Linked DNA regions of Homo sapiens. The protein of the gene in region 1 purifies or fractionates together with the protein of each later gene. This does not show direct contact. Each region holds a gene or a part of one and is shown on either strand. Other genes may lie near its edges.

Evidence for each region. The genes of interacting proteins can lie anywhere in the genome.
Region 2: the proteins of RRBP1 (region 1) and DSTN purify together in Homo sapiens (affinity purification with mass spectrometry, with the first as the bait; one large-scale study listed by BioGRID). This does not show direct contact.

What each region holds. Positions count from the first base shown.
Region 1 is NC_000020.11:17,672,243-17,675,742, reverse strand, and holds part of RRBP1 (ribosome-binding protein 1), read left to right. Parts: intron 1-3,500. UniProt on the Homo sapiens protein: Acts as a ribosome receptor and mediates interaction between the ribosome and the endoplasmic reticulum membrane.
Region 2 is NC_000020.11:17,576,575-17,580,074, forward strand, and holds part of DSTN (destrin), read left to right. Parts: intron 1-3,500. UniProt on the Homo sapiens protein: Actin-depolymerizing protein. Severs actin filaments (F-actin) and binds to actin monomers (G-actin). Acts in a pH-independent manner.

The DNA.
Region 1 (3,500 bases):
CTCCCTGTCCTCTGCTGCAGCCACGGTGGCCTCTGTTCCTCAGGCATGCTTCTGCCTCCGGGCCTTTGCGTCTACTTTGGCATATCCCTAAGAGCTTTTCCTTAGATGGCACATGGCTGGCTCCCTCATCTCCTTCAGGCCTGTTGGCTACCCTGTGTGGAGTGTCAGCCTCTGACGCTCTCCCACCCCCACTCCCTGCCCCCCTTCTCTGCATCACTTTCTCTTCATCACCCCCTGACATGTCCCGTATTTGACTGACTTTGTCATCTCCCCCTCTGAAGCGTAAGCTCTACCAGTGCAGGGATGTAGCTTTTGTTTCCTGAGGTATATCCAGTGTCGAGGGCAGTGACTAGCATGCAATAGGTGCCCATTCTTGCTGAGCTAATGGAGATGATTTTGTAGCACTGGCGTTCTGCGAGTATATCATGTAGCCTGAAGGAGTCTGGATTCCTAGAGCATCACATATAAACACAAAAACATATTCCAGAGCCAAATGCAAGTGAAGTTTGGATTACCTCCAGCCTGCCTCCAGTTGAGAAATTGACAGTCACATGCAGAGGGCACTGTTAAATGTGGACATCCTGCCCTTCCAGCGGAGGCTGGGGTTTGAAGTGAACCTTAGGAGACGATGTGGATGTTGGCTCTCTCCTGGGAGCCCTCAGTCTCCAGCCTGGTTAGATTCATCCCAGTGTCTCTGGGAGTCCATCATGCATGGCACCTTGACAGAACTGGGCCCTTCCCAGGTGCTTGCACCAGTTCTGGGGAGGAGACTTGGCTGTGAGCATCCTTTAATTCCTTGTATAACCAATGAGTGTGAGGTGGGCCTTGCAGAGTCACTGAGCATTTCAGTGACGACACACTCACCAGGAAACAGAACATTTGTTTTGGGTGTGAACAGTGTGCTGGCTGCTCTGAAAAGAGGTAGATTTTGTGTTTAGTGGGCAAGAATGTTCCTTAGGGGGAGAAGGGAGAATTCTTTTTTTTTGAGAGGGAGTCTCGCTCTGTCTCCCAGGCTGGAGTGCAGTGGTGCATCTCAGCTCACTGCAAGCTCTGCCCTCAGGTTCATGCCATTCTCCTGCCTCACCCTCCTGCTGGACTACAGGCGCCCACCACCAAGCCCAGCTATTTTTTTGTATTTTTTTTAGTAGAGACGGGGTTTCACCATGTTAGCCAGGATGGTCTCGATCTCCTGACCTCGTGATCCACCTGCCTCGGCCTCCCAAAGTGCTGGGATTACAGGCTTGAGCCACCGAGCCTGGCCGGGAGAATTCTTATAGTTGGCATTACATTTTGTTTTCTCTTGGTCAGTCCTCATCGTGCTAGGAAGTGAGGGAGGGGTCAAGGTTCCTCTCCTGCCTCACCTCATGGTGATGTTCTTTTCTCAGAGGAATTTTGTGTGGCAGTCCACTAAGTAGGAGGAGCAATGGCTGAGGCAGGGTGGTCTGGTTGGGAAGAGGCAATACTACGTCCAGCCCCATCCTTTGTTTCTCCTCTTCTCTCCTGTTGATTTTAGGTGAAGAAGAGTAGATACTAGATTTCTAGCCCTTTCTAACGGGAATGTCTGACCTACTCATTTTACTTGGAAAGGTGAAAGACCCTTGTTCAAACCCAGGTGGTGTGTTTTTTTGAAGTTCTCATTCAGTGATTAAAGTGTGCAACTCAACTGCATTAAATTGGTTTTTAATTAAGTCTGATCCTGAATAGGAATTAGATGTAGCTTTAGTTTTATGAATACATTTTTATTTCCTTGGTAGTTCTAGGTATTTGTAGTAATTAGAAAGGAAAGTCTTAATTTTCAGAATAGTAATCACAGTGATTGAGGGGAGGAAGGAGTCAATGCTGAAGAATAAATGAATTATTGAGACTCTTAATGAAAAAAGTCTTATTGGTAATGTGTCAAAGGACTCTTAAAAGGTCAACTTTAGCCACTGCTCTGAAGCTAAGTTAGTCTTTTCCATCTTAAGTCATATCCCTCTTAAGTTGGAAGATCTGGAGACTTATTCTGTACAGTTTGATTTTAAAAAGACTGCAGGTGGGCCGGGCATGGTGGCTCAGCCTGTAGTCCCAGCACTTTGGGAGGCTAAGGCGGGCAGATCACCTGAGGTCAGGAGGTCGAGACCAGCCTGGCCAACATGGTGAAACCCTGTCTCTACTAAAAATACAAAAACTAGCTGGACATGGTGGCACATGCCTGTAATCGCAGCTACTTGGGAGGCTGAGGCAGGAGAATCAATTGAACCCGGGAGGCGGAGGTTGCAGTGAGCCGGGATCGTACCACTGCACTCCAGCCTGGGCGACAAAGTGAGACTCCATCACAAAAAAAAGAAAAAAGAAAGACTTCAGGACAGCAAGGTGGCATGGCCACAGGACTATAAAGGGCTGTGGGTCCCACTGAGTCACTGCCCTGTCAGGTCAGGAGGTGACTGCCTGCCTTGACCCTGGCCTCAGTTACTTCCTGTCTGTGAAGGGAGCGATCCTGTGTGGGTGTGAGCACTGGGAAGTGGCAGTAGTAACAGGGCTCCATAACAGATTCTTCAGGCCTTAAAGATGCTCCTCCTCCAGGATCTGTGGGGCGCGTTTTCCAAGGAAATATGACACACATTTTAAACTCTTTATTAAAGTAAAATATATACAGAAAAATGCACTATCACGAGTCTACGCAATAAGTATCCACAAGCTAAACATGCCTGTTTAACCAGCAGATCAAGAAATAGATTATTCCTGACCTCCCCAACCTCCTTCTGTGCCCCTCTTCCAGCTGCTGCCCATCGTGGGCAGGGAATACCTGCTCTCTTCTTAATAATACCAGTGATTGATTTTGCTTGTGTTTGAACTTGATGTAAATGGACTCAAACGGCATATGCTCTTTTGTGTCTTTCACTCAACGTTACGTGTAAGACTTGTCAGGTTGTTGGGGTAATTGTAGTTTGTTCATTCTCACTATTCCAGCATGTGAATATATGAGTTTATTCACATTACTGTAGGTGGGTACTTGGAGAGTTTCCAGTTTGGGGCTATTAATGCCGCAGACTTTTGGTGAATGTCTATACACATTTCCATTGGGTCTGTATACCTAGGAGTAGAATTGCAGGACCAGAAGGAGGTAGGTGCTCGGCTTTAAAAGAAAGTGCCAGACTTTTTGTCTGAAGTGCTTGTTCTAATTTATACTCCCACCAACAGTATATGAATGAGACCTTGGAATATATTATAAAGTGGCTGATTCTAAAAGGGAACCAAAATGAATTTTGAGTTACCGTTGATAATAAATAAGAAATGACTCACTCAGGCTGAAGTTCTCCGCTGTCACAGAGAGAGGATGTTAGGCTGGCAGAATTCGTTAATCAAAGGTGGGCCTTGGGAAAAGGGCTTGTGAGGGTCAGATTTTATTGCTGATGAGCAGGTGATATTTCCTAATATAAACCTGAGTGGAAATGCAGCTCTTCTCCAAGGAGTTAATGGAAGGGAATTCAACGAAGCTCATATCTTGAGATTGAATTCTT
Region 2 (3,500 bases), 96 kb from region 1:
AAGTAATCTCTAATTGAAGGTGTGAAAAGACTGAGAACGTCTGTTGCAGCACGGCATAGATGAGTGCTTGAAAGATAGAAACTTAAGTTCATTCTACACCTGGAAGGTCATTTGTCATTGTGTTTGTGCTTTTGGATCACATCAAAGGAAGATTGTTTACTCCTTTGAACATTTTTACATTACTTCATAGGTTGTTATTTCTGTTTGCCTTCTCACAGGAAAGCAAGGATGAATTTCCTACCCTTGTTTCTATCTTGGCTTGCTTTCAGAAAATAGCTTGTAAATGTAATTAGTGTTTATTTTAAAATGGTTTCACAACTTTTCTGTTGCTATTTTCATGTACAGGTGGAGCATCCCTAATCTAAAAATCCAAAATTCTCTAAAATCCCAAACTTTTTGAACACCAACATATGGAAAATTCTACATCTCACCTCATGCGACAAGTCAAAATGCAGACAAAACTTTCACACATAGAATTATTTAAAATATCATATAAAATAATTTTCAGGCTATGGGTATAAAGTGTATATGAAACACAAATGAATTTTGTGTTTGGACTTGGGTCCTATTCCCAAGCTATCTCATTATGTATATGCAAATATTCCAAAATTTGAAAATATCTGAAATCAAATGCTTGGTACCGGAAGGTACTTAACCTGTAGTAATAGAACTAACACTAAAGCACAGCACAGGCAAATACAGGTAAGGCTTCTCCAACTTGCCCTGGAGCAATCTTTGAAGTCAGTTGTTGAAGCTCAGGAGTTTTGAGGAATTCTCAAATCATTGTAAGAATCTGCAGCCTGACCAACATGGAGAAACCCCATCTCTACTAAAAATACAAAATTAGCCAGGCATGGTGGCAGGTGCATGTAGTCCCAGCTACTTGAGAGGTTGAGGCGGGAGAATTGCTTGAACCTGGGAGGCGGAGGTTGTGGTGAACCGAGATCACGCCACTGCACTCCAGCCTGGGCAACAAAGCAAGACCCTGTCTCAAAAAAAAAAAATCTTTAGAGGAATACTCTAGTTATAAGAATATTTCATCTTTAGGCCAGTGTTGTCAAATGGAAAGAAAATACAAGCTATGTATATACTTTTAACTTTTCTAGTAATATTTTAATATACTTTTAACTTTTCTAGTAATATTTTTAAAAATTGAGAAATTTTACATATAAATTGTTTGAAATCCAGTATATATTTTACACTGAAAGCACGTGTCAATTCAGGTGCTAAATTTTCATTGGAAATACTTGATCTGTATTTAGATATGATAAAATTTACATTTGAAAAAGTAGATTCATATACTCAAGTTGCTCCAGACCTACTTACAAGTTTTCCAGTAATGGATAAGAATAAATTTTTAGAATTTAAGTTAATTAAAATTAAATGAAAATACAGTTCCTCAGTCACACTAGCCACATTTAAAGGACTCGTTAAGTCACATGTGGCTAGTGGCCACTTTATTGGACCAACCTAAGACTTTGTGAGTTGGCCTACTTAATTTGTAATGGGAAGTTGGTGTGTGTACCAACTAAATTCTCTGCATTTCTGCACATGTCCAAGAAACGATGCTGAGATAGCATATGAATTTCTTTATAGGACTTAAGATGTTTTATGAAACTAGACTATTGAGCTCTTTTAAGATGGGGATCGTACATTCCAGTAGCAAGATACCACTCTCATAGTAGGCCCACATAGATGTTACTGAATGAACATGAATGAGTGAATGGGAGAGGGTATTCTTAATTATGACAAAGGACAGGTTCCCATGGAGGTGGAGTCCTTTAATTTTTATACCTTCTATTCCCACATACCTTTTTTAATGTAATGGAAATTGGGTTTTAAGTATTGAATTAATTGAATAGTACCTCCCCTTTGTATACTGCATGATAATTTACTTTGAGTCTTACAAGTAAAAATCCTTCAAGATAGTTAAGGCAGTTATTAGAGTAATACCTTTAAAGTGATTGTGGCATATTGAAAGTCCTCAATAAATGCCAGTTTCCTTTCTTTCCTTAAAAATGAAACCGTGGAATTTCATGCTCATTGAGGCATCCTGAACCATAGAAAAGCGCTCAAAAGCCTAACAAATGAAAGAGCAAGAAGTGGCCGGGCGTGGTGGCTCACGCCTGTTATCCCAGCACTTCGGGAGGCCAAGGTGGGTGGGTCGCTTGAGGTCGGGAGTTCGAAACCAGCCTGACCAATGTGCTGAAACCCCCTCCTCTGCTAAAAATACAAAATTAGCCGGGTGTGGTGGCTCATGCCTGTAATCCCAGCTACTTGGGAGGCTGAGGCAGGAGAATCACTTGGACTTGGGAGGTGCAGGTGGCAGTGAGCCAAGATCCCACCATTGCACTCCAGCCTGGACAACAAGAGCGAAATTCCATCTCAAAAAAAAAAAAAAAAAAAAGCAAGAAGTAATGCTGTCTTACATTAACTTATAAGTATTTACCTTATCTCATTCAACCCTTATAGCAGTTCATTGAGATAGATATTATTTGTGTTAAACTGTACTGCCACATTAAAAGCATGTGCTCAGTGTCTGGCTGCTGGGTTTTTTTAAATCTTGACTCTGCCACTTGCACTAACTGTATGACCTTTGGTAAGTTCCTGACACATTCTGTGCCTCAATTTCACCATTCTTCCAAGTGGGAATAATAATAGTACCTACCACCACAACAGTATGAATGATGCATGTAACTAGTTTAAAGCAGTGGCACAGGCCAGGTGTGGAGGCTCATGCCTGTAATCCTAGCACATTGGGAGGCCAAAGCAGGCAGATCGCTTGAGCTTACGAGTTCGAGACCGGCCTGAGCAACATGACAAAACCCAGTCTCTACATAAAATACCAAAAAAAAAAGGAAAGCTAGGTGTGGCAGCGCATGCCTGTGGTCCCAGCTACTTGGGAGGCTGAGGTGAGAGGATTGCTTGAGCCCAGGAGCTTCAGGCTGCAGTGAACCAAGGTTGCACCACTGCACCTCAGCCTGGACGACAGAGCAAGACCCTGATCCCCCCAAAAAAAGCAGTGGCAGGTAGTAAAGTGCTTATCAGTTTATCAGTGTTAGCTAAAATAAATGGTGGCAAGCTTAGATCTAATTAGGTAAATAGTCTTTTGTTATTACTTGCTATCCAAGTGGAAGAAGCCAGAATCATTTATTTAACTCATTAAAAAGGGATTCCTGCCTGACTAATCAAAAGGCAGTTTATCCTTCAAGGGCCAGCTCTAGGAAGACCTGCCTGACATGACACCTCCCTTTTGTCATCATGTCTCATACAGAATCACTCATTTCCTGGGCTGTCAATGCATGGAGAGCTTGCTGCTGGTGCAGCATTAATCATATATAGGATTCTTTCTTATATCTGTTATCTCTACCCAACTGGATATATCTTTAGAATAGTTCAAAGTTTTGTTCATCTTTATATCCTGTATTCATCTTTATATTCTGATGACACCAGTGTGTGCCTCAGTAGTTGTAGAGCAAATGAAAAGAGTTGGAGGAGTG